Homo sapiens: one gene and its partners. The protein of the gene in region 2 purifies or fractionates together with the protein of the main gene of each other region. This does not show direct contact. Each region holds a gene or a part of one and is shown on either strand. Other genes may lie near its edges.

The links.
Region 1: the proteins of MSN (region 2) and CTNNA1 purify together in Homo sapiens (co-immunoprecipitation; 2 studies listed by BioGRID and IntAct, with this or other methods). This does not show direct contact.
Region 3: the proteins of MSN (region 2) and PLS3 fractionate together in Homo sapiens (co-fractionation; 2 studies listed by BioGRID). This does not show direct contact.

Annotation. Positions count from the first base shown.
Region 1 is NC_000005.10:138,755,196-138,766,108, reverse strand, and holds part of CTNNA1 (catenin alpha-1), read right to left. Parts: intron 1-10,913. UniProt on the Homo sapiens protein: Associates with the cytoplasmic domain of a variety of cadherins. The association of catenins to cadherins produces a complex which is linked to the actin filament network, and which seems to be of primary importance for cadherins cell-adhesion properties.
Region 2 is NC_000023.11:65,724,153-65,735,065, forward strand, and holds part of MSN (moesin), read left to right. Parts: intron 1-3,661; coding exon 3,662-3,757; intron 3,758-5,285; coding exon 5,286-5,560; intron 5,561-6,954; coding exon 6,955-7,038; intron 7,039-7,685; coding exon 7,686-7,832; intron 7,833-9,031; coding exon 9,032-9,128; intron 9,129-10,913. UniProt on the Homo sapiens protein: Ezrin-radixin-moesin (ERM) family protein that connects the actin cytoskeleton to the plasma membrane and thereby regulates the structure and function of specific domains of the cell cortex.
Region 3 is NC_000023.11:115,632,532-115,643,444, forward strand, and holds part of PLS3 (plastin-3), read left to right. Parts: intron 1-1,468; coding exon 1,469-1,550; intron 1,551-2,349; coding exon 2,350-2,515; intron 2,516-4,304; coding exon 4,305-4,447; intron 4,448-7,578; coding exon of another isoform or gene 7,579-7,605; intron 7,606-7,876; coding exon 7,877-7,972; intron 7,973-10,781; coding exon 10,782-10,913. UniProt on the Homo sapiens protein: Actin-bundling protein.

The DNA of each region.
Region 1 (10,913 bases), on a different chromosome or scaffold from region 2:
GAGTTTTTTGATCATGGTAACTTTCATCTAATCTAACACTCTATACATGTTTAACTGAATTAGCTCAACTGCTCTATGCACAAAGAAATAAGAAACATCTCTCATGACAGATTAGCAAAAAGTGGGTATAAACTGCCTTTTTTTTTTTTTTTTTTTTTTTTGAGACAGAGTCTCACTCTATCGCCAGGCTGGAGTGCAGTGGCGCGATCTTGGCTCACTGCAACCTCTGCCTCCCAGGTTCAAATGATTCTCCTGCCTCAGCCTCCCAAGTAGCTGGGACTACAGGCATGCACCACCATGCCCAGCTAATTTTTATATTTTTAGTAGAGATGGGGTTTCACCATGTTGGCCAGTATGGTCTCGATCTCTTGACCTCGTGATCCACCTGCCTCGGCCTCCCAAAGTGCTGGGATTACAGGCATGAGCCACCTCGCCCAGCGCCAATTCTTACCTATCAGCTATTTTACCAAACCTGATCTCCTGAGTTCATAAATTTCCTGGGGTTAGCAATGGTGGCTTACACATTAACATCCCTCCAGCACACAGCACACTGCTTTGCAAGGCAGACTTAATAAATGAACTGTATTTAAGTGAGCCTTTCCTGATGCAATTGAGATACAGCAAAATGGCCAGGCACAGTGGCTCTCACCTATAATCCCAGCACATTGGGAGGAAGAGGCTGGTGGATCACTTGAGGTCAGGAGTTCAAGACCAGCCTGGCCAACATGGTGAAACCTCGTCTCTACTAAAAATAAGAAAATTAGCTGGGGCCGGGCGCGGTGGCTCACGCCTGTAATCCTAGCACTCTGGGAGGCCGAGGCGGGCGGATCACCTGAGGTCAGGAGTTTGAGACCAGCCTGGCCAACCTGGTGAAACCCCATCTCTACTAAAAATATGAAAATTAGCTGGGCGTGGTGGTGGGTGCCTGTAATCCCAGCTATTTGGGAGGCTGAGGCAGGAGAATCACTTGAACCTGGGAGGCGGAGGTTGCAGTGAGCCGAGATCATGCCATTGCACTCCAATCTGGGGGACAGAGCAAGACTCCGTCTCAAAAAAACAAAAAGAAAACAAGCTGGGCATGGTGGCAGGCACCTGTAATCCCAGATACTCGGAAGGCTGAGGCAGAAGAATCGCTAGAATCCTGGAGCCAGAGGCTGCAGTGAAGAGAGATCGCATCACTGCACTCCCACTCCAGCATGGGCGACAGGGCGAGATCTCAAAAAAAAAAAAAAAAAAAAAAGAGAGAGATACAGCAAATTACTGCTTTAGACTAACTCAAAGCAACTAGAAAACATCACATCTTTCACTGGTCTTAAAGACCCGAAATAAATGTCATCTGGCCAGGTACAGTGGCACACACCTATAATCCCAGCACTTTGGGAGGCTGAGGTGGGCGGATCACCTGAGGTCAGGAGTTCGAGACCAGCCTGACCAACATGGAGAAACCCCGTCTCTAATAAAAATACAAAATCAGCCAGGCGTGGTGGTGCATGCCTGTAATCCCAGCTACTCGGGAGGCTAAGGCAGGAGAATCGCTTCAACCCAGGAGGCAGAGGTTGCGGTCAACTGAGATCATGCCACTGCACTCCAGCCTGGGCAACAAAAGCAAAACTCCGTCTCAAATTAAAAAAAAAGAAAAAAGTTGCCATCTTCCATTTCCACTTTTTTTTCCCTCCCAAGGGATCAAACTCACATTTCACTTAGTTACCTCTCTGCAAAATGGAAGGTTTCTTTTTTTTGTTGAGACAGAGTTTCACTCTTGTTGCCCAGGCTGGAGTGCAATGGCACGATCTCAGCTCACTGCAACCTCCGCCTTCCAGGTTCAAGGGATTCTTCTGCCTCAGCCTCCCGAGTAACTGGGATTACAGGCATGTGCCACCATGCCCGGCTAATTATTTTTTTGTTTTTTGTTTTTTGTTTTTTTGAGACAGATTCTCGCTCTGTCACCCACGCTGGAGTGCAATGGCACAATCTCAGCTCACTGCAACCTCCACCTCCCGGGTTCAAGCAATTCTCCTGCCTCAGACTCAGGAGTAGCTGGGATTACAAGTGTGAGACACCGCGCCCTGCAATTTTTTGTATTTTTAGTAGAGACGGTGTTTCTCCATGTTAGTCAGGCTAGTCTTGAACTCCTGACCTCAGGTGATCTGCCCGCCTCCCAAAGTGCTGGGATTAAAGGCGTGAGCCACCGCACCCAGCCTAAATGGCAGGTTTCTAAAGACACACTTAAAAGTCAGTCCAAAGCTTTTCTAAAAATATGATAACCCAGGTCCACAGACGCAAGAGAATGACAACAAATGAATCCCTCATGAAACCTTTTGCCAATTTAGAGATCCCCAGGAATATAAAACCCACAAACACTGTTTCATCAGTAATAGTAACATGCTTCTCCCTTTTAGCCTCTAGCTTATTCACTGCACCATCATATTTCACAAACCATGATTTAGAATTTGGATTGTAAACTCAGGCCAGGCACAGTGGCACATGCCTGTAATCCTAGCACTTTGGAGGCCAAGGTGGGCAGATCGCTTGAGTTCAGGAGTTCAAAGATCAGCCTAAGCAATATGGTGAGACCTGTCTCTACTAAAAATGTAAAAAATTAGCTGGGTGTCGTAGTACACACCTATGGTCCCAGCTATTCAGAAGGCTGAGGTGGGAGGATGGCTTGACCCTGTCTCAAAAAAAAAGCTTGGATTAATATTGAAATATTGAATCTAATGAAATATTCAACATACCATGAGAGAATGGTAACAATGCATCTTTGCCTAGAAAGAATGCATGTAACAGAGCCGCACAGGGCAAATGCACTATCAAAGGCTCAATCCTTCAATTAACTTGAAATGGGCCATAGTGAATGTGTTTTCTGAGTTATAACAGCACTTTCATTTTCAAGAACAGTCTGTATGTAGTCTAACCTAGTTAATAAATACAGGATTATGTAACTTGGTAATTAACCAGGTTTCCAACTCACATCTTCAATTCAGAATGTCAAATACTGACAAAAAAAAACATAGCAATAAGACACTTTCAAGAGAGTTGATGAGCCACTTATTTTTGACAATATTTAATAATGAAACCTCAAAACAAGAAAATGAAGGAAATTCACAGCTTGATATGATGGAATCAAATAGTCAAAACTAAGCAATCTAGGGAAAAAATTAGCCTTTAAATTAGCAATTAAGAAAGATAAATTTTTCTTCTGTTAAGCCCTTTTAGTCTAAAAAGAAAAAAAAACCTCTTAGAGACAAAAATTACATTAGCTTCCACAATATAGTTCCATCCCTCCTTTTAATAAAATGGGAACATGAAAAAAATGACAGACATTTTAAAAATCACTTCACACTACTCATACAATATTGTTCAAAATGAGCAAATGTTACAAGTATTTAGAACATCCGAAGTTGCCCTGTGAACTGTATTTACATTACATGCATTACTCCAAACTTACAGCTGGTAAAAAAAAAAAACCACAAATTAAATCCCAATCAAAAAGAGGGGTTGATCGATGACAGCCCATCAACAAGTAAGTGGAAATACATGCTAATTTCAAGCTCCATTAGAAATGGAGTTGTGGCATACTTCCACATGGAGAAAAATAAGTTTGATAGTTATAAAAAAAAACTAAAGAAAATAATGAACATTTAAGGCTCTAACAGAGAAAGGGCAATGTTGACATTTTATTTTTGAAGTGTGGTTCTTTGCACACTTGGAACTTTCAATAATGGATAATTCAGTATAGTGCTCTCACAAGTGAGCAAACAGCATGAGACAAGGCAAGTCACGCTGGACTAATTCCCCACACTGTTCAGTCCATTCAATCCAGGCCCACAACATGTGGGGGACAGGGCAGATCACCAAGCAGTACATGTAATATCTTCAAGGTCTGGAAGCAGGCATACTGGTACCCAGGCAAGTTTCAGAAAGTGCTGCTCTATGAGACTCTTCCAGATGTGTTTTAACTTTTTCCTTACAGAAAACAGAAGCTGCTAATAAGACTTAAATCCTCCAACATGCATAGAATAATAACCTAAATTTCTTTAGGACTTCAAAGTGGGCCAGGCGCAGTGGGTCACGCCTGTAATCTCAGCTCTTTGGGAGGCCAAGGCAGGTGGATCACTTGAGCTCAGGAGTTTGAGACCAGCCTGGGAAACACGGTGAAACTCTGTCTCTACAGAAAACACAAAAATTAGCCAGGCATTGTGGCAGGCGCCTGTAGTCCCAGCTCCATAGGAGGCTGCGGTGAGGGGATCACTTTCAACCCGGGAGGTCAAGGCTGCAGTGAGGTGTGATTGCACCACTGCACTCCAGCCTGGATGACTGAGTGAGACCCTGTATCAACAACAACAAAAAGACCTCAAAGTGTGTGGTTTTGGTCACTTGAGAAAAAAATGATTTGGGCAGAGAAGGTAGAAAGAATAATTGGGTTCATGTTTTTCACTACTTATTTATTATCTCCATATAGAAGGCCAAACTCACCCCCAAAATTTTTTTGAGTAAATTTTTTTACCTGTTCATTTTTCCACCTTTTATGCACAATAAAATTCACTCTCTCGTATACCAATCTAAAAACAGCTGTGTGGGCCAGGTGAGTGGCTAAAGCCCGCAATCCCAGCACTTTAGGAGGCGGACGGATCATTTGAGGTCAGGAGTTCAAAACCAGCCTGGCCAAAATGGTGAAACCCCGTCTCTACTAAAAGTACAAAAATTAAACAGGTCGTGGTGACACATGCTTGCAAATCCCAGCTACTCAGGAAGCTGAGGCAGGAGAATCATTTGAACTCAGGAAGTGGAGGTTGCAGTGAGCCGAGATCATGCCACTGCACTCCAGACTGGGCGACAGGGTGAGACTCTGTCTCAAAAAAAATAAATAACAGTTGTGTGATCACCTCCACAATCAAGATACAGAGAAGTCAAATGAATTTATTTTCACAACAGCATGTACCTACAACTAATCCACAGAATATAAGAGTACAAAATATTATTTACTTAGAACACCTGCTTCAAGAGCTAAGTGGGCATCAACTTCTGAAGAGGCTGACGAAGGACTACAGTTGACAAGGCAGATCCCTAACATCCCTGACAAGGAACGTTCCTGAACAGAAATTCAGTACCAAACCCTTTCTGGATGACATCATCACCAGCATGTGGCCTTCCAGAACTTATTATATATCCAACCAGCCCGAGAGACATCTCCTCTTCTATCCAAGTTTGTGACCTGCTATTAAAACCCCCCTTTCAGCTTCATTCAACAGTCAGCCTACAGTCACACCACTTCAAGTACTCAGACAATAGATCAAGAATGTCTAAAGTGGAAAATACCCTGATGTACCACAGGTGATGATAAAGTACATTTCTGGAGAGGAATTTGGAAAAATTTTAAGAGCTATAAAAAAGTAGCATACCTTGGAAATAATCCAAACGTCCATCAACATATGAATGGATAGGTCAGACGTGGTGGCTCACGCCTGTAATCCCAGCAGTTTTCGAGGCTGAGGCAGGTGAATCATTTGAGGTCAGGAGTTAGAGACCAGCCTGGCCAATATGGTGAAACCCCGTTTCTACTAAAAATAAAGAAATTAGCCGGGTGGTAGTGGCGCACACCTGTAATCCCAGCTACTCAGGAGGCTGAGGCAGGAGAATCGTTTTGAGCTTGGGAGGCAGAGGTTGTGGTGAGCCAAGATCGCACCACTGCACTCCAGCCTGGACAACAGAGACTCTGTCCCCTCCAAAAAAAAAAGTATGAATGGATAAACAAAATATGGCATATACATACAATAAATGGAACATTATTCAGCCTTTAAAAGGAAAGAAATCCGGCTGAGCACGGTGGCTCACTCCTGCAATCCCAGCACTTTGGTAGGCCGAGGCGGGTGGATCACCTGAGGTCAGGAGTTCAAGACCAGCCTGACCAACATGGAGAAACCCCGTCTCTACTAAAAATAACAAAATTAGCCAGGCATGGTGGCGCATGCCTGTATCCCAGCTACTCAGGAGGCTGAGGCAGGAGAATCGCTTGAACCCGGGAGGCGGAGGTTGTGGTGAGCCAAGATCGCGCCATTGCACTCCAGCCTGGGCGACAAGAGTGAAACTCCATCTCATAAAAAAAAAAAAAAAAAAAAAAAAAAAAAGGAAAGAAATTCTGGGAGAGGATTCCAGATTCTAAAACAGCAGAGTAGGAAGCACCAAGATCAGTCTCCCCACCTAGACAATTACACTGGCATAATTAGTCAGATGTAATTCTGGGGACTGTTGAAGAAAGCTTGCAACTTCCAAGGAAAGACTGGGACAGTAAATTGGGTTAATTTCAGTCAATTTCAGCCCTTAGCTGAGCAGCAGCTACCCCATTCCCTAGCCCCCAGCCACGGGCAGACAACCTACAATGCATTCCTGAAACAGCTTGCAAGCAGCTTTTGGGAACCAGGATGGGTAATAAGGACCCTGTCCTCCAAATATTAGGGATCCGTATTCTAATTGCTGATTGCTGCTTATAATCAGGGATAGGCAGACACTGAGAAGGATAGCCATTATTGCACCCCCTCCATGACTGCAAGTCCTCCCCCTCCAGCTGAAGTAGACTTCCAGGAAATTTAATGGGCCAAGGGCCCCCACCTCCCTACTTCCTTCATTTTTCTCTTTTTCCTCTTTAGGAGCTAGACTTTAAAGACTAGGATATTCAAAAGCAATCATGAGGGTGCGGGGGAGATAAGGAAAAAAGTTACCATGGTGCATGCGCCCAGGGAAAGGTGCAGGCTCAAAAAAGACCTGAGAAGTCCTTAAGTTTGTATCTCAGGCTGATCCTCAGCATAAAAACAAACTGTAACAAATAAACAAAAAAATCCAGCAAACCCTGGGAATGAGAAGAGTCCAATTTTCAGAGTTAGCACATCATTAGATTCAAATGTCCAGTTTTCAAAAAAAAATTAAAAAGTCCCAGGTCATACAAAGATACAGGAAAGTATGACCCATTAAAAGAAAAAAAAAATTAACCAATAAAAACTGTCCCAGTTGCTGGGCACGGTGGCTCATGCCTGTAATCCCAGTACTTTGGGAAGCCAAGGCTGGCTGATCACCTGAGGTCAGGAGTTCAAGACCAGCCTGACCAACATGGAGAATCCCTGTCTCTACTTAAAATACAAAATTAGCCAGGTGTGGTGGCGCATGCCTGTAATCCCAGCTACTCAAGAGGCTGAGGCAGGAGAATCGCTTAAAGCCAGGAGGCAGTGCAGTGAGCCAAGATCACGCCATTGCACTCCAGTCCGGGCAACGAGAGCAAAACTCCATCTCAAAAAAAAAACAAAAACTGTCCCAGAGAAAGACCAGATGGAAGACCTACTAGACAAAGACATTAAAACAACTGTCTTACAGATGTTCAAAAAACTAAAGGAAGGTATGGGAAAAATCAAGAAAATAATGTATTTTAAAAATAAAAATATCAGCCGGGTGTGGTGGCTCACACCTGTAATCCCAGCACCTTGGGAGGCCGAGGTGGGCAGATCACGAGGTCAAGAGATCAAGACTATCCTGGCCAACATGGTGAAATGCCATCTCTACTAAAAATACAAAAATTAGCTGGGCGTGGTGGCATGTGCCTGTAGTCCAGCTATTTGCGAGGCTGAGGCAGGAGAATCACTTGAACACGGGAGGCAGAGGTTGCAGTGAGCCAAGATCGTGCCACTGCACTCCAGCCTGGTGACAGAGCGAGACTCCGTCTCAACAACAACAACAAACAAACAAAAAAAGTTAGCCGGGTGTGGTGGCAGGCGCCTGCAGTCCCAGCTACTAGGGAGGCTGAGGCAGGAGAACGGCATGAACCCGGGAGGCGGAGGTTGCAGGGAGCCAAGATCGCACCACTGCACTCCAGCCTGGGTGACAGAGCAAGACTCCATCTCAAAAAAAAATAAAAATAAATAAAATAAATAAAATTAAAATACCAGATTAGCCAGGTGTGGTGGCACATGCCTGTAATCCCAGCTACTTGGGAGGCTGAGGCAGAAGAATCACTTGAACCCAGGAGACAGAGGTTGCAGTGAGCCGACATCACGCCATTGCACTCCAGCCTGGGCAACAAGAGCAAAACTCCATCTCAAAAAAAAAAGAAATAGGAGAAAAAAAGAATATATTACACATAAGCTGAGGACTGCATGGAGAGGATTTCATCAGTGATTAGATCTGGGTGGCAAGGAAGAAGAATGGGCTGTAGATGGTTCTCAGTTTGCCCAAATTTGTTATTGGAGGCCCTCCATAATCTGACTGTTGCCTCATCTGTTATCATTCCATCCACAAGCTAGACTCCAGGCAGAAAAGACTTTTTCCTCCTTCACTCAACAAGCATCTAATTTGCCCTCCATGCCAGGTACTAAGCACCAAGACAAGAACTAAGACTCTCAGTTCCTGCCTTCAAGGAGCTTACAAGGCTCCCTTCCTAGCAGTAAAGGCAAACAGGTACATCAATAATAACGTACAGCATAATGTAATGCACCACCCAGTGCTAAAAAATTTGCTACCAGAAACGAAAGTGCTGAGTCTTAAGATATGACTAAAAGCTCATCATGAAAGGTTATGTTGGGAGAGTAGAAGGGAATCACTGAGGAAGCAACTTTACCCTAGGCCCCCAACATCCAGTCCATTTTCTTTTTTTCTGAGTCAGGGTCTCACTGTGTTGCCCAGGCTGGAGTGCAGGGGCATGATCATAGTTCACAGCAGCCTTGAACTGTTTTTAAATACTGTATGCCTCAGCGGCATTACATATATTCACGATCCATTTCCAGAACTTTTTTCATCTTCCCAAACCGAACTCTGTACCCATAACAATAGCTCCCTATTCCCCTTCACCTGGCCCCTAACAACCACCATTCTGTTTTCTTTCTTTCTCCTTCCTTCCTCCCTCCCTTCCTCCCTTTTTTTCTTTTGTTTGAGACAGGGTCTCACTCTGTCACCCAGGCTGCAGTGTGACATGATCAGAGCTCACTGCAACCTCCACCTCCCAAGCTCAAGCAATGAATCCTACCACCTCAGCCTCCTGAGTAGCTGGGACTACAGAGCGTGTCACCATGCCTGGTTGATTTTTTTTTTTTTAGAGGCGGGGTCTCATAAAGTTGCTCAGGCTGGTCTTGAACTCCTAGCTTCAAGTGATCCTCCCAACTCAGCCTCCCAAAAAAACAGGATTATAGGCATGAGCCTCCCTGTCCAGCCCCAATCCATATTTAAGTCCTGTCTCATTTCTCCAAAATACAGCTCCCTTCATCCCTACCACCTCGTACTCCACCATCTTCCTAGCTCAACTCTCTGCTTCCACATGCACACAAACACAAGCCTTCTCCAAGCACTAGCAGGAGTCTTAAAAAGGAAATCAAATCATGAAACTCCCTACAATGGCTTCTTACACCTCTAGAATAAAACCCCAACATGGCCTCTGCCTTCTCTGGCAATCTCATGTGAGGTCTTCTCCCCACTGAAAAAGTACCCAAGCTATACAAGTCTTCTCTCAAGTCTCTAAACACACGGAGTCTTTCCTGTCTCAGGACCTCTACAAATGCAGAGGGCCCTGTTCCTTCTCTCCATATTCTCACCAGCACACAACACTACCCCCAACAATCAGGGCTGTCTGTTATGCCCCACAGTGAGTTACGTTCTCAAAGAAATCCGAAAGTGCGGTGGCTCACACCTGTAATCCCAGCACTTTAGGAGGCTGAGGCGAGTGGATCACCTGAGGTCAGGAGTTAAAGACCAGACTCACCAATATGATGAAACCCCATCTCTGCTAAAAATTAAAAAATCAGGCTGGGCACGGTGGCTGAAGCCTGCAATCCCAGCACTTTGGGAGGCCGAGGTGGATCACGAGGTCAGGAGTTTGAGACCAGCCTGGCCAACATGGTGAAACCCTCTCTATCAAAAATACAAAAAAATTAGGCAGGCATGTTGGCACACACCTGTAATCCCAGCTCCTTGAGGTTGAGGCAGGAGAGTTGCTTGAACCCAGGAGGCACGGGTTGCAGTGAGCCGCAATTATGCCACTGCACTCCAGCCTGGGAGACACAGCAAGACTATCTCAAAATAAATAAATAAATAAATAAATAAATAAGCCGGGCGTGGTAGCTTGCACTTAGTAATCCCAGCTACTCCGGAGGCTGAGACAGGAGAATCGCTTGAATCCCCAGGAGGTGGAGTTTGCAGTGAACTGAGATCACCTCACTGAACCCCAGCCTGGGCAACACAGGGAGACTCCATCAAAAAAAAAAAAAAAAAAAAAAAAAAAAAAAAAAAGAAGGAAATCCCAAAACCCGGGCAGGGCAGTTACCCTGGATCTCCACATCTGGTTCATGTCTCCAGAAGAGACAGGAGTCCCACTTTGGACACCTTGAGTTTGAGAAGCCTGGGACACCCAAAAAGCTTCCCAATGCACAGGTGACCATGTGGGTCAGGAGACACACCTGCACTCAAAGGCTTGGACTTTTAGCACATAAGGCTGATGACAGAAGAGACTGCACAGAGCAGTGATTCTCATCTTGGAGGAGGGTACCTCTCATCTCTAAGTCACTATATGAAATGAGATATCACTGATGGGAGTGAAGGTGATGCCACATCAGTGGTGTGGAGGACAAAGATACTTTGGAAAGAACCCTGGGTACGAGAGGAAAGAGTGAGGGCGAGGAAAAGAAAGAAACTGAGATGAGTCAAAAGGAAAAGAAAACCAGGAGAGTGATATCACAATTCCCCAAACTCCTATGCCCTTTTATGCTTCTCATGACTTTCTCCCTTCACTTAAAAAAAACTCGACTCATGTTTCATCCAGATCAAATGCCACCACCTCCTGAAAGCCTTTCTGGACTTACCCAAGTAAAACTTATTAGCCCCCTCTCCGTGCCTCTACAAGTTTCTTTTGTTGTTACTATTAGGTAAGATTTGACTCAGAC
Region 2 (10,913 bases):
TTTTTTTTTGAGACAGAGTTTCACTCTTGTTGCCCAGGCTGGAGTGCAATGGCGCGATCTCGGCTCACTGCAACCTCTGCTTCCTGGGTTCAAGCGATTCTCCTGCCTCAGTCTCCCAAGTAGCTGGGATTACAGGCATGTGCCACCACACCCAGCTAATTTTCTATTTTTAGTAGAGACGGGGTTTCACCATGTTGGTCAGGCTGGTCTTGAACTCCTGACCTCAGGTGATCCACCTGTCTTGGCCTCCCAAAGTGCTGGCATTATAGGCATGAGCCACCACACCTGGCTAATCCTCCTTCTCTTATCACACCCCTACTCCCACCCAATAGTGAAACAGACAACGTGGTGCAAAAAGAGGCTAACGGTCTCACTCCTGGGATTTCTGGGACTGGCTGCATAGTCTGTGCCTACCTCACTTCCTTTCAGTCTTGGAGTCTCTTAGCCTCTACAATTAGTCTGTTAGTACAGGCAAAGACCAGTTGCTGCTTGTCTGAGTCCATTTTATGTTTGTTTTGTTTTGTTTTTGTTTGTTTGTTTGTTTGTTTGTTTTTGACAGTGTCTTGTTCTGTCACCCATACTGGAGTGCAGTGGTGCAATCTCAGCTCACTGCATCCTCCACCTCCCAGGTTCAAGCTATTCTTCTGCCTCAGCCTCCCGAGTAGCTGGGACTATAGGCACGCACCACCATGCCCGGCTAATTTTTTTGTATTTTTAGTAGAGACCAGGTTTCACCATGTTAGTCAGGATGGTCTCGATCTCCTGACCTCATGATCTGCCCATCTCAGCCTCCCAAAGTGCTGGGATTATAAGCGTGAGCCAACACGCCCAGCCCATTTTATGTTCTTATAATAAAATACCTGGAGCTAGTTACTTTATACAGAAAAGAGGCTTATTTGTCTCCTAATTGTAGTGGCTGTAAAGTCCAAGAGCATGGCACCAGCACCTGCTCAGCCTCTGGTGAGGGCCTTTGTGCTGTTTCATAATGTGACAAAAGGTCAAGTAATTCACAGGGACAGGGGTCCCCATGACTGAAACACCTCTCATTACATACTACCTCTTAATGATTCTACCTCCCAGCACTGCCACACCGGCAATGAAGCATCAACATGAGTTTTGGTGGGGACAAACCACATCCAAACCATAGCACTGCTCTACTACTTCTGTTCCAAGTCTGTTCTCCCCCCATGACCTAATATCCTGGCCCTCATGGTCCATCTTCTTCTCTTCAGCATCTTCAGTGGGTCTTCTCTCTCTCTCTCTTTTTTTTTCTCTCTCTCTCAGCTGGATTGTTTCTTGGATCTTGCCTTTTCCCACCAATTGCATCTGGACACACTATTCTTCTGCAACCCTGTGGAAAATGATTAGAACTGTTAATTGGGCCTTGGGCCCTGTTTAGATCTAGGATGATATACAAGGTGCTTTAAAAAAATCTTTTCTGTTCACGCCCACCCACTACCTTCATCCTCTGCAAAAAGCCAATATTACATTTCAACATAAGCATTCACATTTCTCCATCTGAAACTTTCTGGCAGTTCCAGCTGCCTATTGACTTAGAGTCAGGGAATCAACTGGCCATTGAATTCTGGAAGCCTTTTGAACTTTCCTCATTACCTCCCACCCCCACTGATCTTTTCTAAACATGTTTCTAATTATCCACATCAGCAAGAGGTAGCTGGGAAATGGGATTGTTTTTATTAACCATTTGCAAAATAACCTTGTAATGTAATTAGTACAATGATAGAACTTAAGAGAAAAAAGAGATCATTGAAGCCATACTCCCCAATTTGGATAGATAAGGAAGGCGAGGCCCAGAGAGGAAATATGCTACCTTGATATCATACAGCTAGTTGGAGACAGACATGAACATTTTGCTCAGGTTTCCTGATACTTGATCCAAGCTATGAAGGGGAAGGGTGACCTGGTGAGCAATGAAGGTCGATGACTTGGGGGACATGGCTTCTCCCCAAAGTGGTTGTCGCTTGGGTCTAGTGGGAATGCCAGGAAGCATATCTCGATGCAGAAGTGATCAAAGTTTATTACCTGGATGGGAAATTTGGGCCAAAGGAGAGACAAGGCAATTAATCACTTGAGAAGCTCAGGAGTCGTAAGCTCATATGAGTACTTGGCATTAGGACATAGCATGCTAGAGAAGAAAAGGTACAAGCTCTATAGTCAGACACATCATGGTTCTATATGGCTCTGTAATTTTAGATGCATTACCTCTCTAAGCCTTAGTTCCTCATCTATAATATGGGTATAATTGCTATCTCACAGGGTTGTTTACTGTTCAGCGCCTGACACATGATTGGTGCTTAATAAATATGAGCTACTTTTTTCTTTGGGGTCTCTGAAGCTCTAGATTGTAAACTCTGGGTGTGACTGTGGGGCCTGACTTTGGATGCATAATAGAAACTTTGTGGATACAGTGTTAGTGTGTGTATGTGTGTCTTTGTGAGTGAGTGTGTGTGTGCATGTGTGTGTGTGTATTTTGAAGGGAGATATTAATTTGTTCATAAGGGAAGGACATCAGCAAAACTGGGTCCTTGTTCCCTGCTTCCATCTCCAGGTATATTTCTATGATTCTTTCTCACCTTACCCTTACCCTCCACTTGCATCCTTCTCCCAAAAAACAAAATAAAAAAGACTGCCTAAGGCCAGCCTGACCTCATTAGGATGTGGCTCAGCTTCACTGCTGCCATCGACAGTGGTGGGTATGCTGGGGTTGAGCTGAGGGCCAGACTATTAACATGCTAATGTCAGGGACTAGAGAACAGAGCTCATCTGTGTTCTCTTGGCAAGCCTCCTTTTCCTGCCCACTGTTCAGCCAGGAGGCTCAGGACAACAGGGGGCACCTCAGCTGCTACACTGAGGTACTTACCCTATTTCTACCCTCATTTCCACCCTAAACCTGTGTAAGAGGAATCATGACTTGGCTCTGATCAGGGTTGGAAAAAATCCTCTCAGAACCCAGGCACAGCATGGCTTCAGAGTCCTTCACAATCCCCGTTTTATCTTCTCAAACATTCTTTATTTGGGGTATTGTAAATGGAACTCAGTCTTAAGGGTGTGGGTATTACCCCCAGTTGCTAAGGATGAAGGACAATATATGGGAGTGGCCCAAGAGAACAAGATACAGGAGTTAATCCAACAATCTCCACCTTCAGCCTTTAATCCATCATGGAAGTGGGAAGTGGTGTGACATTGTAGAGGGAAGGAGGAGGTGGCAGAAATCACTGGATATGCATGGATTTGGAGTCAAACAGACCTGGTTTGAACCCTAATTCTGTCACTCACAACCTGAAACTTGGGCAAGTTATTTCATTTATTTGAACCTCATTTTTGATATCTATAAAATGGGCCTAATTGTAAGTCTAGCATAGGGGTATTATGAAAATTAAAGGAGATGATGGATGTAAGGTTCTTGGTATGTGTCAGTGCTCATAAGTAATAGATCCCTTTCCTGCCTCAGCAGTACTTTGTGCAGAGAGATGCCGACATCAGTTCTTGATTGCTGCTCAAGTATATTTTCTTGCCAGATGCTGAGCACCTTAAACCCTTTAAGGGCAGATATAATATTGACTTCAAACTTTGTGTCCTCTGTGCCTCACACAGAGGAAGTATTCAATCAATGGTTGGTTGTTTTGGTTTTCTCTTCTAGGTGGTGAAAACTATTGGCTTGAGGGAAGTTTGGTTCTTTGGTCTGCAGTACCAGGACACTAAAGGTTTCTCCACCTGGCTGAAACTCAATAAGAAGGTAACTGCTTATTCCTCTGTTGGATTTAGAATTCTTTTCTTTTCCAGAACATTCCTGGGAGGGTACCATGTGCTAGTTGGCAAATCCTGGATACCTAGGGCTGTGTTTGTGACTGGGTGGTCTGTTGACCACTTGGATCAGAATAAGGACCGAGGACACAAGCAAGGCAAAGCTCTTGCTCTGTCTCTACTTTGACTTCTAACAGCGACAATGGCCAGCATTCAAAGAAGAAGAGACTCTTTTCTTTCTAATGGGAACACTAGCTTGAACTTTGACTTGTTTTGGATCAAATCCATTAGTGGCTTTTCAAGAGAGGATTGGTATCCCCTTCATCTCTCCAAACTCAATGGCTTTAGGGGATTTGTGTTTTTTTTGTTTGTTTGTTTTTGTTTTGTTTTGTTTTTGACGGAGTCTCGCACTCTCGCCCAGGCTGGAGTGCAGTGGTGCCATCTCGGCTCACTGCAAGCTCCGCCTCCTGGGTTCACGCCATTCTCCTGCTTCAGCCTCTCGAGTAGCTGGGATTACAGGTGCCTGCCACCACGCCCGGCTAATTTTTTGTATTTTTAGTAGAGACGGGGTTTCACCGTTTTAGCCAGGATGGTCTCGATCTCCTGACCTTGTGATCCGCCCGCCTCGGCCTCCCAAAGTGCTGGGATTACAGGCATGAGCTACTGAGCTTGGCTGGGGATTTGTTAAAAAGAGCCACAGATTCTTGAACTAGAAAAAAAAAAATCTGAAAGATCTTACAGTCTTATGCTGCACCTTCTCCAGCAGTCAACTAATGTCTGAACCCCATATAGATGTTTCCCTCTTTCTTGATCTTTTACCTCAGTTGGACCCCAAATGGGATGGTTTGAGTCCATGCAAGCTCTCCACCCCAAGCAGCATCTTCACGGGAACCTGGCAGCCTTCCATCTTCGTATCCTCAAACTGGCTGGCCTTGTCCTTAGAAGTCTCCATACTGTCCTGCAGTTTGCTTCTCTGATTGTGTCTAGGGAGTAGGTACCCCACCTTCTGCTGGTAGAGTCTTGTTTTCCTAAAGAGTTGAGTCTTTTGCTGGACAAGTGTGGAGCCACTAGTATTCCATTTCAGGCTTTAAAAAATGGTCTAATTTGTGCTCTTGTTTAGCCAGTTCTCAGTCCTCAGACATATATCCTAGTCCTTACTTTGCTAATTTATGAAGTTGGAGGAGACTTATAAGACGAGCTTAAAAGAAGAGCTTATGCCTACTATCAGAATTTGGGGATAGTTGGATATAGTCAGATAAAAGTGGTTTGAAGATTTCTGATCATCAGTCGGTATTAAGGTAATTTCAGGAAGAAATTCCCAACAGAAAGTGATTACAGACATGGGATTCAGTCCCCAGTGAAAGTAATGTATTATTTTTCTTAATTACCAGGGGAGTTGCCACCCAGCTGTCTAAGATTATGCAAATTGATGATCTTTCAGTGTTTTCTCCCCACCCTACAGCCACTCCATTACCCTTAAAACCTATTTTTTGAGAGTCCATAACCCTTACTCTTCCCAGGTGACTGCCCAGGATGTGCGGAAGGAAAGCCCCCTGCTCTTTAAGTTCCGTGCCAAGTTCTACCCTGAGGATGTGTCCGAGGAATTGATTCAGGACATCACTCAGCGCCTGTTCTTTCTGCAAGTGAAAGAGGGCATTCTCAATGATGATATTTACTGCCCGCCTGAGACCGCTGTGCTGCTGGCCTCGTATGCTGTCCAGTCTAAGTATGGCGACTTCAATAAGGAAGTGCATAAGTCTGGCTACCTGGCCGGAGACAAGTTGCTCCCGCAGAGGTGAGGTGGTTCCCTGCCCTCCTTTGCCTTGGCCATAAGGGGCTGCAGCCCACAGCTGACCAATCCCTGCCTCACAGGGATGCCAGATCTGTTCTTCTCCATTGGGGTCTGTCTGAAGACTGTGTTATGCTGCTCAAGAGACATTTGCATATAGTGTCAGACTCTGTTGTTGTTTTTCTGGCTTTCCAAATAAAAAGCCTTTTTGTTTTCCCTCTGTCTACCTGGTTACAGAACTTTATTACCCTGGAGGCAGGTGCTTATATAGAACCAGAGATTGAGTAATTTCTTTCACCCATCCCTGGTTCCATTTTCTCAGTTCTTTTTACTGATTTAGATCTCTTATATCAGAAGTTCACAGGGGAGAGAGAGAAATAAGCAAACCGAGGACATGGGGAGCTCAAATAGTCTTTTAATATTGACAGCTAGTGTACAGAGCTTTCCCCTTTTGTAAACTTCAAAGTCAAAAGCTCTAAAACACTCATTATTTTTGTTTTTGTATCACAATAACACACAAAATGAACAAAGCAGGCAATATCCTTATTTCCTGGCGAAGGAAATAGAGGTGCAGAGGTACTCACACTGACTTTCCCCATCTGGTGCAGCTCATCTGAGGCAGAGCCAGAGCCAGACCTGGAAGCTTAGCACCTTAATATTTTAACACTAAGTTTTTTCCTACTATACCCAATGGCCATTTCCATAGTCTTTTGGATTAGAAGGAAAAGCTTTGCTTCATTCTGGGAGCCTCAGTCCCATTGGAGTTATGGCATATATGTACAACACACCCATAAGATATTAGGGATAGTGCTTGTACCCTGGGGACTCTACCTGAGTCATTGCCATGATATCTGAGATGGCATGTTTAAAGCAAACCTTGTTTATAATCTAGTAGGTCTTGGAGGTTGGGCCTGTTGGTTTTTCTGAAAGCCATTAGGACTCAGTTCATTGCTCTGTAGCCAAAGGCCATCCTTTCATTTCTGAGCAGTATTCTTATAAACATAGAGTGTTGGTCCTAAGAGGATCTAGGAGAGAGTGTACCTGACTCCATGAGGTCCATCCCTACTGTTAGCCCCTAAAGTCAGCACAAACTCCTGACACATTACTGCTATGCTTAGGGACCACAGCACATCATTTGATTTGTGGATGAAGGTACAAAGGAAGGTGTTCCCCTTGTTGTTTTTGATCATCCATTCTTGTAGCTCTCTTACCTTTCAGGCAATTCCTTGTGTCTAGTTTAACACCTTCTTGCTATAATTTCGGTCTGCTTCCAGTGTGACCTCAATTGGCTGACTCTACATCCTCTTTGCATCAGCCCCTTAGAAAGCTAAATGGGCTTCCCTTCTCTCCTGCACAGGGACTTTGTGCTTTAAACTACTCATCACCCATTGTCTTTCCAGAGTCCTGGAACAGCACAAACTCAACAAGGACCAGTGGGAGGAGCGGATCCAGGTGTGGCATGAGGAACACCGTGGCATGCTCAGGTAAGCTTGCCCAAGCAGTGGTGGGCCCCACTTCCCTTACAGGGTGAATGAGAATGCGTTCTAGGGAGAAGAGACTGATGACAAGGGACATTGGTGGATGTTGGAGAAAGAGGGAACAGGGACGATAGAAGGCAAACTAGGACCATTATAAGGCTGTTTTTTGTTTGCTTGTTTGTTTGTTTTGCTGAATGCTGGTAACTGGTAGCCCAAACAGTTTTGACTATCAAGAAATGGAGGGAGCTCTTACACATGGCAAAGCATTTTTGAGGGTTGTGTAGTTGAAGGACAAATATCATCATTTTGCCATCACCACATTCTGAGCCCTGCTAAGAATGTGCCTTTATAAGAGGCTGTCACAATGAATGAGAGAAAGAAAATTGCTTCTATGGCAGCCAACATGCCAGAGGCCAGCAAGGGTCAGCCCATCTTTATTCCCCTTGGGAGCTTAGACCCTAGGTTTTTGTTAGGAGATTTTGCTTTGCAAAAGTCATGCTGTGCTCTGTTCTCCATCATCTGCTTGCCTTTTGTCCCCTTTCCCACTCCTGATAGCAAGATCCTTGTCAGAAGTACAGAGTAAGCAGGCTTTCTATCTCCTTGGGTCTGACTCACAAGCCCCACTTTGTGACCCCCAACTCTGTGTCATTTAGGGAGGATGCTGTCCTGGAATATCTGAAGATTGCTCAAGATCTGGAGATGTATGGTGTGAACTACTTCAGCATCAAGAACAAGAAAGGCTCAGAGCTGTGGCTGGGGGTGGATGCCCTGGGTCTCAACATCTATGAGCAGAATGACAGGTATATCTCAGATCTCTTTTAGTTTATTTAGGTCACGTTAACATCTAGGGCTCACTTTTCACCAAGGAGCAGGGCCATATCTCTTGGGTCCCATCTCAGTTCTTTTTCTACCTAATTTAGTCCAGCCCAGATGATTTCACAACTTCCCTTAGTCAATACTAAATCCTGTATTGACTAGACTCACACTGTCAACTATGGTAGCCACCAGCCACATGGGGCTATTGAACACTTGAAATGTGGCTACTTTGAATTGAGATGTGCTGCTGTAAGTGTAAACTACACACTGGACTTTGAAGACTTAGTGTGAAAAACAGAACGTAAAATGTCTTAATATTTTAAAAAATATTTATTTACATGTTTAAATGATAATATTTTAGATATATTGGGTTAACTAAACTTACTATAATTTTATTACATCCATTTCTTTTTACTTATTTTCATGTGGCTACTAGAAAACTTAAAATTATATATGTGACAGTCATTATGTTTTTATTGGATCGTGCAGGCCTAGACTATCTTATCAGCATTTGTAATTAGTCTCCTGTGATGGTTAAGTGGCTTTTGGCCTATAATCCTCTCACTGTAGCCTTATCCCACTTGCTTATATTTTTCACTTGGTGTGCTCTTGGTGAGGATGGAGAGCAATAAATTATTGTTCCATATAACTCCTGAATCTTGGAGTTCATTATTTACTTTCTCTCAAACTTTTGTAAGCTTGGATAGAAGAGACTCAGTTAAATAGGGCTGGGGATTCCCTTGAGGAACTGTTACAAGTTCCATGCCTCAAACAAATACATAACAAAACAAACTTGAGACAAGGAATCATATGTTAGTTGTACTATCAGGAGATCTTTAGTGAACTCTCAATGCTGGCAGCTGACCTGGTGGCGTGTGATGACACTGGCTGAGCTGTCACTGAGTCTACCTCCTCCAGAGAGAAGTGTTTGTTTGGCCAGGCTCAGTGGCTCACGCCTGTAATCCCAGCACTTTGGGAGGCTGAGGAGGGAAGATTGCTCAAGCCCAAGAGTTCAAGACCAACCTGGGTAACATAGTGAGACCTCGTCTCTATTTATTTTAAAAAAAAAAAAAGAGAGAGAGAGACATAGAAGCTTGGAGGTGACAGTGAGGGCAAGCCCCCAGTTCTCTACACCCTTCTTGTCTTGCCCTTGTCCTGATGTTATTGGTTTCTATTTCTACAGACTAACTCCCAAGATAGGCTTCCCCTGGAGTGAAATCAGGAACATCTCTTTCAATGATAAGAAATTTGTCATCAAGCCCATTGACAAAAAAGCCCCGGTGAGTGATTCCTCCCTCTGACCAAGACAGGTACTTGCCAAGGCCTGCATAATGAGCAATCATGCTATTCTATTTTTCTCTTCCTTTTCTGATGTGTTTGTGTGTACGTGTGTGCGCGCATGTGCACGAACAGGAAGCACAAATAGAGATTGGGAATGGAGGGGGATGTTGATGCCAAGAAATGGCCAGCAGACATCCTGTACCTGGTTCTACTCTGCTACCTGTCTCTCTCACTGTGGATGTGGGAGAGCCACAGGCAGTGTTAAGAACTGCTTCTTAGCCATTGCCTCTGCTGCCCTGAGGTTCTGGGGTGGAAACCGAATGCATCTCATATTTCCAAGCCCCTGGGTCCCAGAAAGTGGACACTGTTCACATATTTGATTCCTTCCTTCCTTCCTCTCTCTCTCTCTCTCTTTCTTTTTTTTGATGGAGTCTCGCTCTGTTGCCCAGGCTGGAGTGCAGTGGTGCAATCTTGGCTCACTACAACCTCAGCCTCCCGAGTAGCTGGGATTACAGGCGCATGCCACCATGCCTGGCTAATTTTTGTAGTTTTAGTAGAGACAGGGCTTCAACATGTTGGCCGGGCTGGTCTTGAACTCCTGACCTCAGGTGATTTGCCTGCCTTGGCCTCCCAAAGTGCTGGGATTATAGGCGTGAGCCACCATGCCCAGCCCTTGACTTCTTTTTTTTTTATTGTGGAGAAAGGGCTGTGGCCAAAGTCCAAATCTGAAGATGATCCTACAGACTTCTTGGTAGAACTTTACTGCTGCCCTCTCAGACTTTTCTCCAGAGCAATCCAAGACCAAAAAAGTGCTTTAAGTTCATTCATTTCTCTAACACACTCGCCATGCTTCTTACCCACTCAGTAGCCTGCAGCTGACAAGACCAGACAGCTGGTGATTGTGGGTAGGTTAGGAAACTGAGCTGAGTGTCCCCTTTTCTGGGATACTGCATGTCCAACAAGGCCCAGTGACAATGCTGAGCCTGACCCTTTTCATGAAGGCTCAGTGATTCTTCTCCAGCCATGAGGTGCCTGAACTTCCCCTGCTAGGGACTTTACACATGTTGTCTCCTTAAACCCTCAGCAACATGGTCAGGTAGGTACTAAGTAGCATACTAATTTTATGGCTGACAAAACTGAGGTTAGAGAGATGGAGTGATTTGCCCAAGATCACACAGCTAAAAATGGTAGAGCTGGGATTTATACCTGCACCCCAAGCTATATGAGACAGTAGCAGTGTGTGGTCAGTGGCAGAGGAGATGGTGGTGCCCATCAGCTGGTGACTTCGGTCCAGTGGTATTTGTAGTAACAAACTCAAACTCACTGGATTTTCTTGTGTGTTTTCTTTTATTGCTGCTGTGCTCAACTATTATCAGAAAAAGTTAAGTAACAAAGCCAGCTGAGATCAAGGGCTCATTTTAAAAACAACAACCAGGACAAGCAGTGATCAGGAGATTTATGTATTCATGTATGTATTTACAGCCTGCCTTGTTCCAAAAAGGATTTAAGGGGCTGGGTCTAGGATTTGCTTTTAGGAGATTGTAGAAACAGTCCAGCCACCCATACTGCACCCACCAGGGTATTATTCAGGGGTCATTTGGCTTCCAAAAGAGGTCACCTGAGACCTAGCATGTTCCCTAATTAGCAGAGAAAGTTTGAATCCTTCAACTTGATTAAGAGTAATTTAGGATGCTTTCACAAGCAAAGATTGAAAGAAATTGTGGTTTCATAAGCAAAGATTGAAAGAAATTATGGGAAGAACATGGGTTTCAGAGTCAAGAAAC
Region 3 (10,913 bases), about 50 Mb from region 2:
CTAATGAGTCACAGACTATAGCCTACCTAATCTTTCTCTCGCCACTATACTGCCAGCACCAAATATAGTGTCTGGCTCATTGTTGAGGCACTCGGTAAACATTTGGTGAATGAAAGAATCTCATGCTCAACTAATTTTACTGTTTTGTGGAAAAGACTCATTTCCAATGCAGGATTTTATCTGTCTTTAAAATATATTCAATAAAGTTCCACCCCCCACTTTTTTTTTTTTCTTTGAGACAGGGTCTTGCTGTGCAGTGATTCAATCATGGCTCACTACCGCCATGACCTCTTGGGCTCAATCAGTCCTCCCACTTCAGTCTCCAAAGTAGCTAGGACTACAAGCATGCGCCACTATGCCTAGCTAATTTTTTTTTTAACTTTTTGCAGAGATGGGGTTTCACCATCTTGCTTAGGCTAGACTTGAACTCTTGAGCTCAAGCAATCTGCCTGCCTTGGCCTCCCAAATTGCTAGGGTTACAGGCGTGAGCCACACTGTACCTGGCCCAAGTTTTGTTTTCAATATCCAAGTTATTTTCTTTCATAAAAGAATGAGAAAAAATTAAAAAAAATTGAAAGAGAAAGCATGCTACAATCCTCTGCTCAGAGATACCCAACTACTATGCACATATTTTGGTCTTTTTGGGTTTTTTTTTTTTTAACGGCATCTTGCTGTGTTGTCCAGGATGAAGTGCAGTGGCATGATCTCCGCTCACTTCAACCTCCGCCTCCCAGGTTCAGGCAATTCTCCTGCCGCAGTCTCCCGACTAGCTGGGACTACAGGTGTGTGCCACCACGCTGTGCTAATTTTTGTATTTTTAGTAGAGACGGGGTTTTCCCATGTTGGCCAGGCTGTTTTCCAACTCCTGACCTCAGATGATCCACCTGCCTTGGCCTCCCAAAGTGTGGGATTACAGGCGTGAGCCACCATGCCTGGCCAGGGTTTTATTTATTTATTTATTTATTTATTTTTCTTTTGAGACGGGGTCTTGCTCTGTTGCCCAGGCTGGAGTGGAATGGTGTGATCGTAGCTCACTCTAACTTTGAACTCCTGGGCTCAAGCTGTCCTCTTTCCTCAGCCTCCTGGGTAACCTGTACTACAGGCACATGCCACCATGCCCGGCTAATTTTTTTATCGTTTTTGTAGAGACAGGGTCTCACTATATTGCCCAGGCTGGTCTGGAACTCCTGGCCTCAAGCAGTCCTCCTGCCTCAGCCTCCCAAAGTGCTGGGATTATAGACATCAGCCACCACATCAGGCCTTGGCCTTTTTTATTTTTAGTTTTTATTTTCCATATGTGTAGTTTATTATGATCAACATGATAAAAGTCATCTAGCTGCATTTTTTAGAGTACATGAAAGAGATGTTATAGTAAGCTTTAAAATATTTGTAAATATTTACAGCCACTTTATAAAAGGAAATCAGCTCTTTTTTTTTACATCAGCCTTTTTTTAAATTTTTGTTTCAGTAAAATGATTAACCTTTCAGTTCCTGATACCATTGATGAAAGAGCAATCAACAAGAAGAAACTTACACCCTTCATCATTCAGGTATGCATTGTTCTCCCCTCCCTTTAACATGAAATTACTGTTTGAGGACCTGTTCTGCAGACTTCAGCCTCTGCACTCTGTAGGCTCCCAATCAATCCTTGTAAAAACTGTTGAGTGTGGGATTGTTATCCAGATTATACAGACAGAACTGGGACTCAGAAAGGTTTCTGAGCTTGCCTGAGATTAATGTTGGAACTGAGGTTCAAATCCCATTCTAATTTCAAAGCCCCATGTTCTTTTCATTTCATAATGTGTTCAAGCACTACAGAGATAAGCAGAAGTATATAAGCTCTTAATTAACTGGCGTGCTTAAGAAATGGAGCATTTTTTTTTCTATCAAGTGAATATTAGATTATTAGCAAAATTCCCTCAGAGAAGAGCACCTCTTGGGATGTGGACATTGATAACTTCTAAAACTCTTTTGGGCATATGCAGTACTGTTGGTCTCTCACCCATTTAGGCATTTTTGGAATTATAACACTTTACTCACATGGATATATTTACTGTGGTACTCAGCCTTTTCATTTAGTGCCAGCATACTTCAAAAGGTACCAAATAAAAATACAAAGTTAACTTCTCATGAGATTCTGCAAAAGGCAATAGCAATAAGGCTGAAATTTGTCTTAGCTAGGCTTTCTAACACAAAACTCTGGAATTTGTTTTTTGTGACACATATATGGATGAAATTAATACAGGGTATTAATTTCCTCATTGAATGTTATTTTCAGTGAAGGGAGAAAGTAGACTGCTAAAAAATGGAAAGGTCAAGAAGCAAGTGTGTAATTTGGCTGTCTTGCAGGAAAACTTGAACTTGGCACTGAACTCTGCTTCTGCCATTGGGTGTCATGTTGTGAACATTGGTGCAGAAGATTTGAGGGCTGGGAAACCTCATCTGGTTTTGGGACTGCTTTGGCAGATCATTAAGATCGGTTTGTTCGCTGACATTGAATTAAGCAGGAATGAAGGTAATGGAACACAGTCATTCTGGCAGTTGTTTATTGGTTATTTTTTTCTAGTCATGCAGACTTTCGTGCTCTCACTTAATGGAGGTGATTAAATGGTGGTAACTAGAATGAACATAAGGTAATGCTATAGAGTTATTCAGGAAAATAGCCTAATTACATGACTCTCTTCTTTACTAGTAATTCACATTTGTCTGGCACTTTACAATTCATTTTGCAATAATGACACAAAAGCACAGAGAGATTAAGGAGCTTTCCTGAAGTCCTCAAACTTGATTATCTATTTTTTTCTGTTCTGCCTACACAACTTCTACCCCGTTGCCACCCTCAGCTCCACCATTTTGCACCATCTTCTTTTTTGGAGACAGGGTCTCACTCTGTCACCCAGGCTGGAGCGCAGTGGCACAATCAGCCTGGCTAACATGGTGAAACCCCGTTTCTACTAAAAATACAAAAAATTAGCCAGGCGAGGTGGCACGTGCCTGTAGTCCCAGCTTCTCCGGAGGCTGAGGCAGGAGAATTGCTTGAACCCGGAAGGCGGAGGTTGCAGTGAGCTGAGATTGTGCCATTGCACTCCAGCCTGGGCGAAAGAGTGAGACTCTGTCTCAAAAAAAAAAAAAAAAAAAGAAAGAAAGAAAAAAAAAGAGAGAAAATGTAAGATTGCAACCGGGTGTGTTGGACCATGCCTGTAATCCCAGCACTTTGGGAGGCCGAGACAGGTGGATCACTTGAGGCCAGGAGTTGGAGACCACCCTGGCTAACATGGCGGAACCCCGTCTCTACAAACAATAGAAAAGTTACCTGGGCGTGGTGGCATGTGCCTGTAGTCCCAGCTAGTCAGGAGGCTGAGGCAGGAGAATCGCTTGAACCTGGGAGGCAGAGGTTGCAGCGAGCCGAGATCATGGAGGCAGAGGTTGCAGTGAGCCGAGATCACGCCACTGCACTCCAGCCTGGTCAATAGTGCGAGACTCTCTCAAAAGAAAGAAAAGAAAAAGAAAATATAAGGATGAATTATATTTCTGTTAAAATAGGATTGAGCCTTCAAGAGTTAATTGATTAATTTTACTTAAATACAAATACCACCGTGTTTCTAGACTACTTTAATCAAAAGGTTAAGTAAAAGATTCCCAAATTGTAAACATCTTTCCCCCAAATCCCTGACTTTTTTTTTTTTTTTTTTTGAGACGGAGTCTCGCTCTGTTGCCCAGGCTGGAGTGCAGTGGTGCGATCTTAGCTCACTGCAAGCTCCACCTCCCGGGTTCACGCCATTCTCCTGCCTCAGCCTCCCAAGTAGCTGGGACTACAGGCGCCCGCCACCACGCCCGGCTAATTTTTTGAATTTTTAGTAGAGATGGGGTTTCAGCGTGTTAGCCAGGATGGTCTTGATCTCCTGACCTCGTGATCCGCCCGCCTCGGCCTCCCAAAGTGCTGGGATTACAGGCGTGAGCCACTGCACCCAGACCCAAATCCTTGACTTTAGAAGTGTTAAATAAGAACAACTTATACAAACATATGACATAATGTGAAGCTTGCATTAAGCTTAAAGGCCATAACCTCATTTGGTATTTGAAATGTGAAGAATAACAGAGAAAAGAATAAATTGTAGTATTATGTTATTATATCTGTTATATATTTATCTTTTTTAGTAGATTATGAGTATCTTGAAACTAGGAACTATGTCATAGTAGTTTTTGCACCTCTATTACTTAACAGTGTCAAAAGACTGAATGAACTTGGCATGACCATTATTGTGTCATATAATAACTGTGGGATTTTTTTTTTTTTCTTCTAGCCTTGGCTGCTTTACTCCGAGATGGTGAGACTTTGGAGGAACTTATGAAATTGTCTCCAGAAGAGCTTCTGCTTAGATGGGCAAACTTTCATTTGGAAAACTCGGGCTGGCAAAAAATTAACAACTTTAGTGCTGACATCAAGGTAACTGTTGAAAGAATCACAACATTTTGGGGGGATATAATAGCTGGAAGATTTCATCCCAGCTTAACAGAGAGAAAATCCTAACACTGTATCACCAAGCCTTGTTGTCTCTTGGCCCTGAAGGTAGATTTTAGAAGAGTAATAGAGCCAGATAAGGTACATTAGCACCTATGTTTTATTTTGTGGGAAAAGGTAAAAATATTATGCTAATTTATCATATTATAATGCTAATTTGTTATATCCTGCCTATTGGTAAACATGGAGTATTAAAGAATAGGACATGACTATTCTATTCTTAACTGCCTTTCCCAAGCCTCAGTGTACCTGTTAGTAAACACACCTAGAAGAGATAGGAAGGGCCTCATGATTTCCTCTTCACCTTTTTTATTTGGCTTCTCTCCTGTCATTTTATCCTACCTTTAGTTGTGAGTTCCTCGAGGATAGCAATGAGCTCTTATTTATGTCTGTGTATCCTACCTCAGCCCCTGCTCCAGGGCCCTCCTACTAAAGCCAACTTAAAACATAGTATGTGGCATATACAAGTCCCTCATATTTCTTGCATTGAATTGAATTTTTTTTTCACTCACTGTTTATCATGAGCAGTGGGGGAAAACTAACAATGGAGGAAGACATTTATTACATGTTGCCTTTGGCTTCTCATGCAGAGGGCCAACATTACCATAGCAAACATTGTGTGGAGTTCTCCTTAACTGCCTCAATTCTGTGTGACATCCAGATGTTGGTACACAGGGAATAAACTTAAGGATCTTCATCAGATGTCACTGACCAGCAAGGCTGTGAAAACAATACTATGTGATGATATGATTTTGTTCAGTGATGAGAGGAAGCAGTGAGTTGCCTGTACTACTGATTTCATCCATGAAAATTAAGAGTAGCCCCAAAATTATAAGACCAACTGACCCTGCCCTCTCTTTTAATTACACAATATGTTTGGCCAGGTTTGTTGTTGTTGCTGTTGTTGTTGTGACAGGGTCTCACTTCGTCACCCAGGCTGGAGTGCAGTGCTGCTAACATGGCTCACTGCAGCCTTTACCTCCCAAGCTCAAGCAATCTTCCCACTTCAGCCTCCCAAGTAGCTGGGACTACAGGTGCACACCACCAAGCCCGATTGATTTTTTTTTCTTTTTCTGAGATGGAGTCTCCCTCTGTCACTCAGGCTGGAGTGCAGTGGCACTATCTCGGCTCACTGCAACCTCCGCCTCCCAGGTTCAAGAGATTCTTCTGCCTCAGCCTCCTGAGTAGCTGGAATTACAGGCATCCACCACCACGCCTGGTTAATTTTTGTATTTTTAGGAGAGACAGGGTTTCACCATCTTGGTCAGACTGGTCTCAAACTCCTGACCTCATGATCTGCCCACCTCGGCTTCCCAAAGTGCTGGGATTACAGGCATGAGCCACTGTGCCCGGCCTGATTTTTTTATTATTTGTAGAGATGGGGTCTCACTGTGTTGCCCAGGCTGGACTCAAGCTCCTGGGCTCAAGTGATCCTCCCACCTCGGCCTCCTAAAATGCTGGGATTACAGGCATGAGCCATGGTACCTGGCCAGCCAGGTATATTTTGCTTCATGCACTAGATGCGTTCCTGAAAATCAGCAAGCCAACCATAAATGGATTTTATGTAGTGGGATATATTTTAAATGTAAAGAGAAAATCTTATTTTTGTAAATGAAGCCTGCTTTGAATTTTTTTATTTTTTATTTTTTAAATTATTTTTTGTTTATTTTTTTTTTTGAGATGGAGTCTTGCTCTGTCGCCCAGGCTGGAGTGCAGTGGCGCCATCTCGGCTCACTGCAAGCTCCACCTCCCAGGTTCACGCCATTCTCCTGCCTCAGCCTCCTGAGTAGCTAGGACTACAGGCACCCGCCACCATGCCTGGCTAATTTTTTTTGTATTTTTAGTAGACATGGGGTTTCACCGTGTTAGCCAGGATGGTCTCGATCTCCTGACCTCGTGATCTGCCTACCTCGGCCTCCCAAAGTGCTGGGATTACAGGCATGAGTCACCGCCCCCGGCCATCAATATTTTTAAAAAGGAAATAATTGTTTGGTAATGTGAAAACTAACTTCCAGTTTATCTGTATTCAAGTTCAAATTTTCACCTGTAAAGCCCTTTTCAGGGTAGTAAATACAGATTTTGCTGGGTCTGCTCTTTACTTGTTCTTCTCAAGAGCATAGGTTTATTATAAATTGTTTGTGTAGCTTTAGCAAGTAATTGGAAGTGAAAGCACTTTCGCAATTGTAGTACACTATTCCTTAAGAGGTAAATGCTATGCCCCCAAATGATAGAATCGGAGTTGGCATTTTATGAATTGCTCTGAAATAGCTTTCAATTACCTGATTTTCCCCATTCTTAGAATCATTTATGGCACCAAGTTTCAAACTCACCTGGGTAACTGGTTTAAAAGGCACCTTTCTGGGCAGCTCCCAGACATTTATATTTGGTAGCTCAGGAATTGGATTCAGTAATTCACATATTGAGTAACTTCCTCAGGGGTTAGTATGCACATAGACTATGAGAAACACTCCTTCATAGCCTGTCTGGACCTTCAAAGCCCAGTAACAGGAAACTATTAATATCGTAGCTGGAAGGTGGTCTTCACATATGGCAGGATTAAGGAATCTTGACTCAAATTCCGGTCCTCTAGCATTCCAAAGATGCAGGAATTTACTTGACACGTGTGTAAAGGTTCTTAATAAGCGTTTGTGCAAGTACAATAGTTTTCAAGCTGTGTTTTGTGGAGTTGTCCACACAACCTGAATTCATGTTGACTGTGAGCCAACCCCATTGTTTTATGTATTGGGATTCTAAGAAAACAACATTCAAGTGATTTAGTCCAGGGGTTTAAAACGAAAAGAGACCTTTGTTTTGTTAAGTACATTCAGATCATAGAGGGTTCAGTGTTATTTTAGCAACTAAAATGTTTACCATTTAATGCTTTTGTCATTTAAATTTACAATTAAATACATCTTTAACATAGCTAATCTCTTCTTCGTAGGTTGTGGTATATGCATTGTGCTTTGTAATGATATAACCTGTTTATTTTCTCTTTCTTCTATGCTTCCTGGATTTCTGCTCTCCTACTTTTTTAAATGCTTGTTTTGTCTGTCAAGCTTATTGACTTCAGTAATTCAGTGAAGGTACAGAACTGGTTATATGTTTATTAGCATTATTGTATTGATGACTTTAATAATTGCGAAGTCATGTCAAAATCCAGTTCATCCATATGCAAGACAGATATAAGGCAGATAGATGGACTTTTCTGGGGAAAACACCTGTTAAATTAAAAGGCAGAGATTTGTGCCATTTATTCTCAAAAAATCCAATGCAAATAGCCTTCCAAACATGGGACAATAGGATACATTCATTCCTTGTAACTGTGATCTCACTGACATTTTCAATTCTTTGTAGGATTCCAAAGCCTATTTCCATCTTCTCAATCAAATCGCACCAAAAGGACAAAAGGAAGGTGAACCACGGATAGATATTAACATGTCAGGTTTCAATGTAAGTATAAGTGCTCTTTTGAATTCTACAATCTTGCAAAATTATTGTCAATTTCTTATAAGTACAATAATTTTTATAATCGTATGAAGTAGAGTTGGCAATTTTAAGCATTATTTTAAAATGTATTACTGTACATGTAATTCAGAGGCCAGAAAACTAGCTTTGATTTATTTTGATTGTTAGTGAATTCCATCGTTGTTGTGGTATTGATTTATATGGATGGCATAAAATATTCAAAACAAGTATGGGGAAATAAGTAACTAGAAGCTAACCTTTTCCAAGTATTTGGATTACAACCACAGTAATAGATTTAGTGACTATATGAAAACCTTTTCCAAGTATTTGGATTATAACCACAGTAATAGATTTAGTGACTATATATTCATATTCCTGTGTTGAGAGTAATGTGATTATGTTTTACAAACTCCCAATCTATGAAATCTAATTTAGGGAATTACTCTCAGAGACCATGTTCCCTGGTTATGTCACTAATTTGTTTAGTGACATTGGACAAGTTCCTTCTCAAAATTGGATTTCACTTTGTTCATCCATAAAGTAAGGAGTTAGAGTGAACTATTTAGTCCCAAGTTTCTAGGAATCTGTGGTTTTTGTACCCATTAGATATGGAATGCATGCTACTAATTAACAAAATCCACATATCTAGCCTATTATGCCATAGGATGGAGTGGATTACATTGGCTAAACCATTTTTCTTCTCTTTCTTTTTTTTTTTTTTTTTTTTGAGACAGAGTCTCACTCTGTTGCTGAGGCTGGAGTGCAGTGGCACCGTGTCGGCTCACTGCAACCTCCATCTCCTGGGTTCAAGCAATTCTCCTGCCTCAGCCTCCCGAGTAGCTGCGATTACAGGCGCCCACCACCATGCCCAGCTAGTTTTATATTTTTAGTAGAGATGGGGTTTCACCATGTTGGCCAGGCTGGTCTTGAACTCCTGACCTCAGGTGATCCACTCGCCTCGGCCTCCCAAAGTGCTGGGATTACAGGTGTGAGCCACCGTGCCTTACGTGGCTAAACCATTTTTATGCTGCCCTTATCAGAACTGAATTTGTAACTGACTTGTGTGCTTATATTTCTGTCTGTATGTTAAATGCAAAACTCTTCAGCTCAGGTCACTCTTGGTAGGGATGAGGGGCCATCTTGTCCAAGAAGGGAGCTGTCTGGGTTGGCTAGCCATGTGATCTGATACCAGGGTAAATGGCATCAGTATGCTAACCGATTCTGATACACCCCTTCTCTAGTCAATCCTTTCCAATTGATCTTAAAACACTCTTTTGTCTCTTCCCTCTTCAGAATCCGACAAGGATTCTTCTGTTGACTCTAGAATTCAGTCTGAAATGTTCTGCTTGGCACTCACCCTACAAATCTTGCTCTAAAATCTAGCCAGTGTTATTTCCCCAAAAGTCTGTGTTCCCCACCCCAACCTTCCTTCCCACCACCACCCAGGTGCCTTTGCTCATGCTGTTCTCATGGTTTTCAGTGTCCTTCATCTTTTTCAGCTTTACACCTTCTTTAGGGTCTTTTTTTTTTTTTTTTTTTTTTAAGAGACGAGGTTTCGCCATGTTGGCCAGGCTGGTTTCGAACTCCTGGGCTCAAGCAATCCTTCTGCCTCGGCCTCCCAAAGTGCTGGGATTACAGGCGTGAGCCACCACGTCCAACCAAGGCCTAATTTTAACTCTGAACAGTTTTACCTGTTTTTTATTTCAATTTAACTTTTTTCTCTTCGTCTTTGTAATGGAAAAAATCCCTTCCTTTCGTCCTAACTTTTTTAATCCTTCAATTCCCTGAGATTAATCCTTGGTCTTGCCTTCCACCATTCTCCCTACGCTCAAAAGAAATCAGTGGAAATAGATTCTCTGCTTCTCTTCAATTCAAGCAACAGTTCACAAGCATTTCCCTTGGGATTTGAGCATGACATGAATGAAGGTGTCTGTCTTCTCCCTCAGCCAGGGAAGCCTACTTCCACAGCTCAGCACAACTTCCTCTCTCTCTAGCTCGCTCTCCAGCAGTGCCCTCCTTTCTAGTTCCTTCTGCTGCATAACACAGCCCCAGAGGTTCCAGGGTTCCAAGGAGTCCACTCTGTCATGAAGCTCATTGACTTAATGCACAGTACCCAGAAGCCTCAGTGAAGTTCAGCTGAGAGCCAGTAGAAAAAAGGAGAAACTCCAAAGCAGAAAGTAGTAAATCAGCAAAATAAAATAAAATAAGCCAGGTTGAAGAGAATGAACCCACAATTTACAGAAAATGAACACCATTTTCTAAAGGAGACTTAAGTAGGACTACAGTTAATACCCTTTCACATTTAATAATTAATTGAGATTCATTGTAGATAAAGTACATTTGAAAAAAAATTTTAACATAATTCTACTGAAAATATCTGAATATTTAACTTGAGGTGGCTTAAAAGGACAATTGAAGCTGTTTTCCTATTGAGAAGGAAAAAAGGAAAAGTGGAACCAGAGAAAGTGAAGATGGTGAATGTATATTTTTCTCTACAGATTTTCAAACAAAATCTGGGAGTTTCCCCCAACCTTTTACGTAACTTCTTTCTTAATGCAATTTAGTTAAATGTACTCAGTAGTTTGCTGTGTGATCTGGCGCCATCTAGTGTATATTACAGGTACTGCATCTCCAAGAGGGCCAACCTTTTTTTTTGCATTCAAAACAATTTTATAATAAGTACCATATGTTAGCTAAAAGAAAGTAGAACTGTATACCCAGACTATGACAGTGGGGAAATTTTCTATATTTTTAGTGTGGCCTTTGACAAAGTCTTCCGATTTTGTTTCAACAGGAAACAGATGATTTGAAGAGAGCTGAGAGTATGCTTCAACAAGCAGATAAATTAGGTTGCAGACAGTTTGTTACCCCTGCTGATGTTGTCAGTGGAAACCCCAAACTCAACTTAGCTTTCGTGGCTAACCTG